Linked DNA regions of Homo sapiens: region 2 is linked to region 1. The links come from fine-mapping of genetic effects on gene expression. A gene starts in region 1. The other region holds a variant in brackets. All regions are shown on one strand. Distances are between the middles of the regions. Region 1 holds the start of MIGA1 (mitoguardin 1). Region 2 overlaps USP33 (ubiquitin specific peptidase 33).

Evidence for each region. PIP is the estimated chance that this variant, and not a neighbour inherited with it, causes the effect.
Region 2: its variant is the best candidate, but not a certain one, in a credible set for the expression of MIGA1 in whole blood (INTERVAL, PIP 0.52).

The regions. Positions count from the first base shown.
Region 1 is chr1:77,776,619-77,782,003 of GRCh38, reverse strand. It overlaps MIGA1 (mitoguardin 1), which reads right to left and starts at 2,355. Exons shown (of 16, transcript NM_001416120.1): 1 at 2,268-2,355. It also overlaps the pseudogene RNA5SP21. RefSeq lists an enhancer at 2,379-2,468.
Region 2 is chr1:77,737,182-77,742,566 of GRCh38, reverse strand. USP33 (ubiquitin specific peptidase 33) reads left to right here. Exons shown (of 24, transcript NM_201624.3): 2 at 819-950; 3 at 1,138-1,191; 4 at 1,628-1,690; 5 at 3,150-3,302. The coding sequence starts at 870. Among named protein-coding and RNA genes, the nearest start is that of USP33, 20 kb to the left of the region's middle. The variant A/G (reference allele first, on the strand shown) is at 2,307.

The sequences.
Region 1 (5,385 bases):
AAAAAAAAAAAAAATTATTTGCTACACTTTTTTAGGCCCTTCATTTCTGCATACATTTCTATGTTCTCTTTTTCTATACTCCAATAGACTATCCCCTTCTGTTAATACCCACCTGTTTTCAGACAAGTGTCAAAACCACTGATTAAGTAGTGGTTTCCTTTAAAATCAAACACAGCAATACCTCTTAGGGTGGGTTACTACTACTGATGCTTCCCTTAATCCTTACTAGGGATACAGCAGTATAAACTTAATCCCCCCTACCAGTGTTCTAAGTACAACTTTTAGATTCAGTATAGTTAGTTCTACTTGACATACATTTATTTCAGTCAACAACCTGTGATAGAGACATATGATTAAAAAGTACAGAGGAAACCATGAACAGTTAAGAAAGTGAAAAATGGTCCTCTGGAGAATAAGACAAGGGATATAGAAAAGCTGGGCAAAGAATGACTGCTTTTCCTTATAAGTCTGTTTGTAATACTTGATTTTTAAAAACCTGCCTACATGTATTACTTTTTTAATATTACTACAGTAAAAAGGAAGTGGGGGGAAGCTCATTTATTCTTCCCCCTCCCTAAATATTAACACATTTTATTTTGAGAAACATTTTTACTAATTAGATTCTGGATCATTAAGCAATCTATGCTACTGCATTTAAAAAACGTATTGAGTAATTCACCCAAAGTAATTTTCCCTATAATGGAGCATTCCAAATTTTTAAGCAGAATAGAAAGAAAATAAAGCAAACACTTTAATTGGCTGCAGAGATATTCTTAAAAGATTATGACAAACCTCGGCCAGGCGTGGTGGCTCACGCCTGTAATCCCAGCATTTTGGGAGGCCGAGGTGGGTGGATCAGTTGAGGTCAAGAGTTCAAGACCAGCCTGGCCAATATAGCGAAACCCCATCTCTACTACAAATACAAAAAAATTAGCCAGGAGTGATGTCGGGCGCCTGTAATCCCAGCTACTCGGAAGGCTGAGGTAGGAGAACTTCTAGAACCCTAGGGGCGGAGGTTGCAGTGAGCAGAGATCACGCCATTGCACTCCAGCCTGGGCGACAGAGCCAGACTCCGCCTCAAAAAAAAAAAAAAAAGAAAAAAGAAAAAATATTATGACAAACCTCTATTTTTGCATTCTAACTACCTCATTCTTTTTCATTTAATATTACTGAGGAAGTTGATTCCAAACCTAATCATTATTCATTGAAAAACTAAAGAAAAAAAAACAAAAAACTAGTCATTTCATTTGCTTTCAGAAGCATAATAAAAATAAACATGAAGGGGGTTTCATGATTATTCAAATTTATAGACGGAATCTATAAAACATAACCAAAAATATTGTCCTGTGTGATATTACTTGCTCCTCTACATTCCAACTACTGGGGAATTAAAAATAAGTGTCATAAACAGTTTCTTAGACATCTTAAAATTCTATCCTGCAACTTTGACTTTATAATCCAACAGGAAGGAAAGTCTGAAGTATCAAAAAGAAAATTGACGTGAAGCACAAATCTATATAACCTAACTCTGACACTTTGAACAGAGCAAACATGTTTAGCTGCAATAACAACAACAATAAAACAACAATAATAAAGGTTTCAAAGTCCTGTGCAAAAACAAGCTGAGTCTTCCCTCTGGAAAATAGATAATTTAACAACTTTACAGAAGGACCTGACACCACAATACTCCCGTGCTAAATTATTCTCTTAAAGCACCTGCAAAGCAGAGTAATCTTTCACATCCAAAAGCCACTCCCTGCTCAAAACCACCCGCATCCAAGCCGAACCTGAGACCTCACCAGCTGCCCTACCTCCAGCGCGCTCTCCCCCGACCCCACAGCAGCCCCTCGCGGAGCTCTCCTCTGCTGTCTTCCTTTTTCTTTGCCAAGAACACCAGAAAAGGGGGTCCCTCCAGCTCGGCCGTCCAGACCCTTCCTCTGGCTCAGAGCAGTGGCGAGCCCATCCCAATTCCGCGCTTCCTTTGCAGGCCTCCCTCTGGCGTGGGGACCCTCCTGCTTTCCTATGCAAGTACTAACCAGGCCCGACCCTGCTTAGCTTCTGAGATGAGACGAGGTCGGGGGTGTTCAGGGTGGCACGGCCGTAGACCCTCTGGCTTTCCGCCGCTCCACCTGGCACTCCGAGAGCTAACGCCAGCGATGGAGTCCGCGCCACCCCTGCCCCGAGGCCTCTGCCCCAACTGCGTGGCCGCTCAACTCTCCGCTTCCTCCCGCCCGCCTCTCCACCCCACCCCGCCCCTGGCCCTGTACCTGGAGCTCCAGGCCAGGTACAGCTGGCCTGCCCACGCCAGCTTCCCAGCTGATGCCTGGCGCTGAGCAGCAGTCTGACATGGAGAAGGCGGAGTCCTTCCGGGGTCAGGAGTGCGAAGGTGGAGAGAAAGTGGAGGGGGCCTTCCAGGCTTTCTGCGTGAGGGACTACGTGTGAAGCAGCTCCCGCCATTTTTGTTTAGGGTAGAGGCTCCTTCCTCGTCAAGTGGATGCAAAAACTATATTCGAAGAATTGCATCCTTTTACAAACCGGTAAAAAAAAAAAAAAAAAACTAGTATTGTAGTTCGTAACCTGTCGGGGGATCTAGAACGGTTGTCAATCTGGTAAAAATTATGGAGGGTTTCCCCTGGAAAAAAAAAAATGTGTATACACATGCTCATTACATTAAAGAAAAAAAAGTTACACAATTTCAAAACCCTGAAAACAAGATTAAGAACTTCTACCACAGGCCCTCAGCCCTCAGATGAATGAGTGTTAAGAGGCATTCCAATCCGGTATAGATGATGCATTTATTATTGATTTCATGTCCTCTTTACCTTTTTTTCTGTGTTTCCCACTGAATTAGGCAACCGAAGAATATTGAATGTGGCAATTTATTGGCAGAGTAGTCACCTCTCTCAGGTTCTAATACATAGTAAACTAATAGGGGGCCGGGTTAGGAAAAAATAACAACAACAAAACCCAAGGTACTGTTTCTACGTTCAGTCTTCAGTCAAAACATTCCATCAGAACTGCAGATTTAGGCGGGGCACGGTGGCTGAAGCCTGTAATCCCAGCACTTTGGCGGGCCAAGGCGGGCAGATCACTTGAGGTCAGGAGTTCAAGACCAGCCTGGCCAACATGGCGAAACCCCATCTCTACTAAAAGTACAAAAATTAGCCAGGCACCTGCCTGTAATCCCAGCTACTCGGGAGGCTGAGGCAGGAAAATCGCTTGAACCCGGGAGGCGGAGGTTGTGTGAGCCCAGATAGTGCTACTGCACCCCAACCTGGGTGACTAGAGTGAGACTCTGTCTCAAAACAAAAAACAAAACAAAACAAAACAAAACAAAAAAACTGCAGATTTAAGAATTCCAGTTGCTGAGCATATTTGTGGTGAAAAGCCAAAATAATTCTGTTTTCAAAATTCCCATTTAACCAAATGGAAAATAGAATAGTAGTACCAATTTATGATATTATTAGATTAATAATAACTAACGATCCACAGACTGGGTTTTATGTGAAAATATTTTGCACTTATAGGGTAAATGGAGCTCTTGAGACTTGAAGAACCTGAAATTTGTAAGGCTATTTTCATTTATTTTCCCAATTTCCTCCTCTTTCCCATTTCCCACAGCTTCCAAACATTCAACGTAATGAGAATAGCAGTAATGATGATGACTACCACTCAACACAACTTTCCTGAGACCATATTATCTCCTTAATTCCACAATAAACATTATGAGAAAAATAGTATTACACGGTGGGTACAGAGTTTATTCTTTAGCATGAGAATAAGATATGTCACATTTAGGCCAAGTGAGGTGGCTCACATCTGTAATCCCAACACTTTGTGGGGCCGATGAGGGAGGATCCCTTGAGGTAAGAAGTTCGAGATTAGCCTGGGCAATAGCAAGACCCTCATTTCTACAAAATAATAATAAAATATATAAAATAGAAATATCACATTTAATTTATGTTTATAAACCAAATGTAATTTGCTGTAAGCCTCCCTTCTTCTGGTTTGGCAGAGTACTGCACTCAATCTTAGCCATTATTGGATATATTAGTTAACATATTCGCTACAAGTAAAAGAAAACCAAACAAGTAGTGGTTTAAACCAGAAGGACAGGGGACTCAATGTCTTCTGATATTGGAGACAAGGAAAAAAAAATTGGAGCCTGGATTAATTCTGAAGGCCAGTACCTCCCCCAGATAACCAAGCCATCGTGTAATGCTCACTAAACCAGAGAATGGAGTTCATGGAGTACTACCAGTTGTTTCTTCTGTACAAGTACTGCAATACATGCTACAGCAACCATTAATGAATTTAGGGGATCCTATCTGCATAATATCAAAACAAAACTGTGAAGTCAGACTGCCTGGGTTTGAATCCTTTCTTGGCCACTTACTAGATGCATTGTTAAAGGAAAAGAAACACAAAGCTATTTTTCTGTAGTTTCAACACTTCTGACTCCAAATGTGTGGAGGTTTTTCCCCACCAAACAAGTCTCCAATTATTTCTTATTATAAACTCCACTCTTTAATTTAGTGTCTACCAACTGGGTGTTGTACAGTTAAATTTAATTCAATACTATGCACCAAACCCTTAAGGGCTCAGTCCTACAAGACTGCCCCCACTTCAGATACCAATTGCAAATCCCAGGTTGTCACTTGTACTTCTGACCAACCAGCTATAAATCAGGAATTCCCACAATCTTCTCCTCCCATCCCAAACCAGTCTATTGATTTATAACAGAAGATATTACAAAGGATACAGATGAACAGCCGGATGAAGAGGTACATAAAACAAGATCTGGAAGGATCCTAAGTGCAGGAACTTCTGTCCCCATGGAATCAGGGTGTATGACCTTTTTGGGATATGGATGTGTTCACCAACTCAGAAGCTCTTAGAACCCCGTACTTCAGGGATTTCTGTGGAGGCTTCATAATGTTGTTACCAGAAAGGGGTACCAATCCAGATCCCAAGAGAGGGTGCTTGGATTTCGCACAAGAAAGAATTCAGGGCAAGTCCACAGTCCAAAGCAAAAGCAAGTTTAAGACAGTGAAGTGGTGAATGTCCACTTACTCTATAGACAGAGTAGGGCGTTCCCAAAAGGAAGAAGAGGAATGCATCCACTCTAGGTACAATATTCATTTATAGAGGAGTTAAAAAAAAAAAGATCATGGGAAGATGTGCTCTGCTACGAGGGTTTGTGGTAAAAGATTAATTTTCTTAATTACCATATTTTGCAAGAATTAATATTATTATCTTTAAAGCAAAATTAGGAATGCTTTTGCTCTCAAGGTATCAGGGACATCAGGACACTCCCAAGTCTGGGTCTGTTTAGTAAACATTATCAATCTGTTCCCTTAACTGTAAATGTTTAGAAGCTAGAAA
Region 2 (5,385 bases), 39 kb after region 1:
TGCATCTCTTAGCCTTATGTGCAAATGAAGCTAATAATGGTGCCTATTTCAGGGGTTGTAAAGATCATGAAAATGGGGTTCTCAAACCTGGAGAGATTTTGTCCCCCAGAGGGTATAATTTAAAACAGTCTAGAGACACTGGTCATCAGAGTTCAGAGTGGTGGCAGGGATGGTCTGTCTGTCTCTTGTGGATAGAAGTGGGAATGTTGCCAAATAACCTGCAGTGCACAGGACAATCCCTCACAGCGAAGAATTATCTGGCCCTAAGTGTCAATAGTGCCGGGATCGAGAAACCCTGATATAAAGTGCTTATCCTGGTATAAGGCCAGGATACCAGATGATTTAATTTATGCCATCAGTAGGGGGTCCTATTAGTAGAAAAATGAAGCTTTCTACTTGAAGTTTTTTTTTTTCAACTCCTAGTCCAGCCTAAGGATTAATTTTTTTTTTAAAAGGATAAAAGTGCTTCACAGTTGAATAACTTGAATATTCCCCCCTTTTATTTATCTATAAAAAGTGAAATGAGAGGGGAAAAGCAGCAAAAGTCATGGAGAAACAAACTTACATTTGTTTATAGATGTCAATTTTAATAAAATGTTTATGTAGTAGAGAAATTTCCAGTGTTCAGATTAACTTCAATTCTGAAAACTCATCTATGTTTGAGAATACACTCTTTTTACAGGGCAAACTTATATCATTCTTATGTTATCTTTTAATCATTTTTAATATGTTAACATTTTAATTTTTTTATTTTTTGGAATCTTTGCAGGCATTGTAAGCATTTATTAATTTTTTTGTGTGTGTTACTTTTCTTATAGGTGTTACCTCATTTTGAAAGTCTTGGGAAACAGGAAAAAATTCCTAACAAAATGTCAGCTTTTCGAAATCATTGTCCACATTTGGATTCAGTTGGTGAAATAACAAAAGAAGATTTGATACAAAAATCCCTTGTAAGAAACAGGTTTTTTCTTCCTTGAAAAACTATTCACTTTTCTCTTGAATGTGTAATTTTCATAAATTACTGTAATACTCTATGAGCAGTATTTTAAAAATATGTATGATGTCATTAGTGCATTAGTGAATTGTATGTGTTTGTGTCAATATAACCAATGTTGTCTTTTTAATTTCTTTTTATAGGGTACTTGTCAGGATTGTAAAGTCCAAGGACCAAATCTTTGGGCATGTCTGGAGGTGTGTATATGTTTTTTCCTGAAAAGATTGCTATAATAATAATAAATTTGGATCTGAATAATCATAACCAGAAAATTTTTGATACTTAAAGTGATTTTTGTAAATTAAACTTGCTTTTAAAAGGTCATTATTAATAACAAAAATTAAACTTTGGAAAGATCTTAATCTGTAGTGCTTTTGTAGTTTTTAGTAAATCACTCAGCTATTTTATGCTTGCCTTTTATTAGAAATGACATAGCTTTTAGCTTAGAAATATATCCTGGTTTTATTTTGTGCCTGGAAACATTTGGTTAAATTTAATGACTGGAAAGTCATTTACTCATTGAATGTAAAACAGGTAATCCAAACTTAATTGTAAATGTAATTGTAATGCTGTTATAAATTTACATGTATATTATAAAGTACCTTATTTTTCTTCCTATATAATTATTTATAGAATAGATGTTCATATGTTGGCTGTGGTGAATCACAAGTAGATCACAGCACCATACATTCTCAGGTATGTATATAAAAAATTTAATGGAAGACTTGTTAAAAAAAGTGCCTGAAGGAAAGGGAAAGCCAGTATAACATTATTAATTCAAGTTGTAATTCAAATTTGCACTCTAAGTTAAAACTTCACTTACATTCTCTGTGAAGGATGGGGAAGGGAATTGCTAGGAGGATGAACATTAGAATGAGGTTGTGATTAAGAAAGCACTGATTTCAAAAGTGTACATCCGGCCAGGCATGGTGGCTCACGCCTGAATCCCAGCACTTTGGAAGGCCAAGGCAGGTGGATCACCTGAGGTCAGGAGTTCGAGACCAGCCTGGCCAACATGGCGAAACCCTGTCTCTATTAAAAGTACAAAAAAATTAGCTGGGTGTGGTGGTGGGCACCTGTAATCCCAGCTACTCGGGAGGCTGAGGCAGGAGAATTGTTTGAACCTGGGAGGCGGAGGTTGCAGTGAGCCGAGATCGTGCCATTGCACTCCAGCCTGGGCAACAAGAGCGAAACTCCATCTCAAAAAAAAAAAAAAAAGTGTATATCCAGATATTTGAAGGTGATAGCTGGCATATTAGGAGGTTGAAGCCCAAGAGAGAGTGGGTGCTTAGGTTTATGACATGGCCTGGCT[A/G]ACTTCTTTAAGTCTCAGCTCATGTCATATTGCCTTTTCCTGCACATAGTCCTAACTGGACTCACCTTTCTGCTTTGCTCTGGTTGTTTGGTACTTCCCATGTAACTCTGGCATGCCTCTTCTATAGTGTTATGTAGAGCTCCCATTCTAAATGGAAAGTTTCTCGAATGACTTTGTTTTAAGATGCACATTGATACCTCTACAGCATCAACTGTTCTCAACCAGGATTCCTCTATAGAATTAATTAAGCCTGAATACCCAAGCTCTGAGTCATCATTGTATATCATTTGCCTCTTTCTGTGCATCTAAGATGGTATTTGCTGTGTACCACCATTGGGAGAATTGATAAATTAGTCACTCAGATCATTTTTTGTAGGGCTTAATTCTGTAGCAGAACTCTGGTTGTGAAAGGCTAGACTTTTATCTTTCCAAGATTATATATTCTGTATTGCTAGAGCTGTTTTATGCCTTGACTCATGTCATTTGTGTTCTTTTGCCATTCTGATTTCTTAGAATAGTTACTTGCTATTGTTAATTATTTTCTTGTGTTATATTTATTTGTAGACTGCAAAGCAAGGTCTTACACTCTTGCGTTTATCTTTTTGTATAATGAATAGTGAGGGGAGAATGGCAGAGTAATTTCTAGAGTAGGCTTAGATGTTGTTACTGTTTATTATACCTTAGAAGTTTATCTAAAGAATTTTTTTCATGTTCTAAATTAGCTTTTGAGTATATTGTTACTCATCAAAGGCAAGCAGTTTATCTTCTGTTATCTTTTGAAGAAGTCTTTTCAAGTATATGTAATTTTGGTTCCTCTTTTCCCTCTACTGTGAAATTATATAGGAGACAAAGCATTATCTAACTGTGAACCTTACCACTCTTCGAGTATGGTGTTATGCTTGCAGCAAAGAAGTATTTTTGGATAGGAAATTAGGAACTCAGCCTTCATTGCCTCATGTAAGACAACCTCACCAAATACAAGAAAACAGTGTCCAGGTAATAATCTAGATCCACTTAGTTAAGCTGTAAAACATTCCGGTAATAATTTCAGAATTTGTCATGTAGCTGAAATTTTCAAAAGGAATACTGCCTAACCTGTACTTTGAAAATTTCTGTAATGTGCCTTTTTTCTCTCAAATAAAGCACTCAGACTCCCCTTTCTTGTGTTGCTTAGAGTGCTAGATTAGGGTGAGATTGAAGCCCACCTGTTTGAAGATGGAAAAGGCCCTAATGAATTTTTGAAGTTTTTTTTTTTAAATGACTCAAGTAGTCTTTATCTTTTTCTGGTAAGTCTGATTTCAAGAAAGGTGGTGGGCCTTCTTTGATAGCATATGGCAGTTACTAATTCAGCTCTCTTCCCCGTTCTCTCCTCCCCTCCATCCCCTTTGTATTACTGTGAACATTTTACTTATTATTGACAACAAAGTAGAATATAATAAAGCTTAGCATCAGTCTTTGGGTTAAAGATTTTTCTCCCTTTGGGCTGGGTGCGGTGGCTCACGCCTGTAATCCCAGTGCTTTGGGAGGCCAAGGCGGCTGGATCACGAGGTCAGGAGATCGAGACCATCCTGGCTAACATGGTGACACCCCGTCTCTACTAAAAATACAAAACATTAGCCGGGTGTGGTGGCGGGCACCTGTATTCCCAGCTACTTTGGAGGCTGAGGCAGGAGAATGGCGTGAACCTGGGAGGCAGAGCTGGCAGTGAGCCGAGACCTTGCCACTGCACTCCAGCCTAGGTGACAGAGTGAGACTCCATCTAAAAAAAAAAAAGAAAAAAAGATTTTTCTCCTTTTGGATCAAGAGACTTAGAAAACACATGGGTTTGCTTGCAGAATTTATCACTTAATTTTCAGAATTCTTAAAGTCATAGAAAAATAGGAAAAAGGAAATTAACTTAGAATAGTTGGCTTCTTAATCAGATCATCAGTTGATCAGAATTTGATCAGATTTGATTAACAGCAAGTTTTTTTCCTCATGTGTGTTATAGAAATCACATATTTCTGTACTTGTTCATTGATACCAACTGTCAGGTTTTTCTGTTGTATGTTTGTATCACATTCTTATGGTAGATATTTGTGATAATAAATTTGCTTGCCTTACACATGAAAGATGGCTAGATTTTAGTCAAAGAATAATTTCTTGCATTTTCAGTTTCTCAGTTGAATGGCTCTAGTTAATTATAACCATTACTGTTTCTCCCACTTATACCTATTTATCATTCACAAACATGTTTAGTCTTTTTCAAAAGTCCAGATAGTATGAAAATGGCCGTTTCGTTGAATCCTCTTACATTATTAACAAAAGTTTGTCCCACTGAAGATAGCTGAATGGTAATAAGTAGAAAAAGTTTTAAAAAAGAAAAAAGTGTAATGTTATGACTAAAGTTTAATCACACAAGGAACTAATAATATATAAAGGCAAAACTATCAGCATCACTTACTAGAGAAGTAAGTTAAATAAGCTATCTGTTGCCATTTCTGCCAGAAAAGATCAAGATTACAAACTTTAATAAATGTTGAATCTGATAGAATAAGTATACTGATACTTTCCTGATGGCTTGTTAATAATTTTCTGATGACTTGTAAATATGTTAACACATAAAAGGCATAAACTTAATTTCATTCAACTTCCTTATGATCCCATTGTTGAAGAAATTATTCAGAAGAAAACAGTGGTTCAGATAGATTTCTTTAGTGGTCCAAAACTTATATGCTGTTGAAATCCAGTTTACCACAGGATATTTGCAAAATAGTAAAATATTGGAGGCCATGCAAATATTAATAAGATTTTTCAAATAGACATTTTTTCTAGATAGTAAAATTTCAGGTGATTTAAGCCTCTGTACTTCTGTGTATTTAGATATTTTGTAGTGAGCATGTATCTTTTTAAAAGCAATTACTTTATGAAAACAAAATGAAAGTATGAAGTCCACTCAAATGTCCAGTCTCTACAGATGTCAGGAAAGTAAAATCGTTGGGAATTAGTGCATATGCCTGCATTTTAGAGGTAAAGTAAGGCTATAATAACTTGGAGAACCAGAGTACATGCTAAATTCTTTCTGCTATTCAGTTTCCTT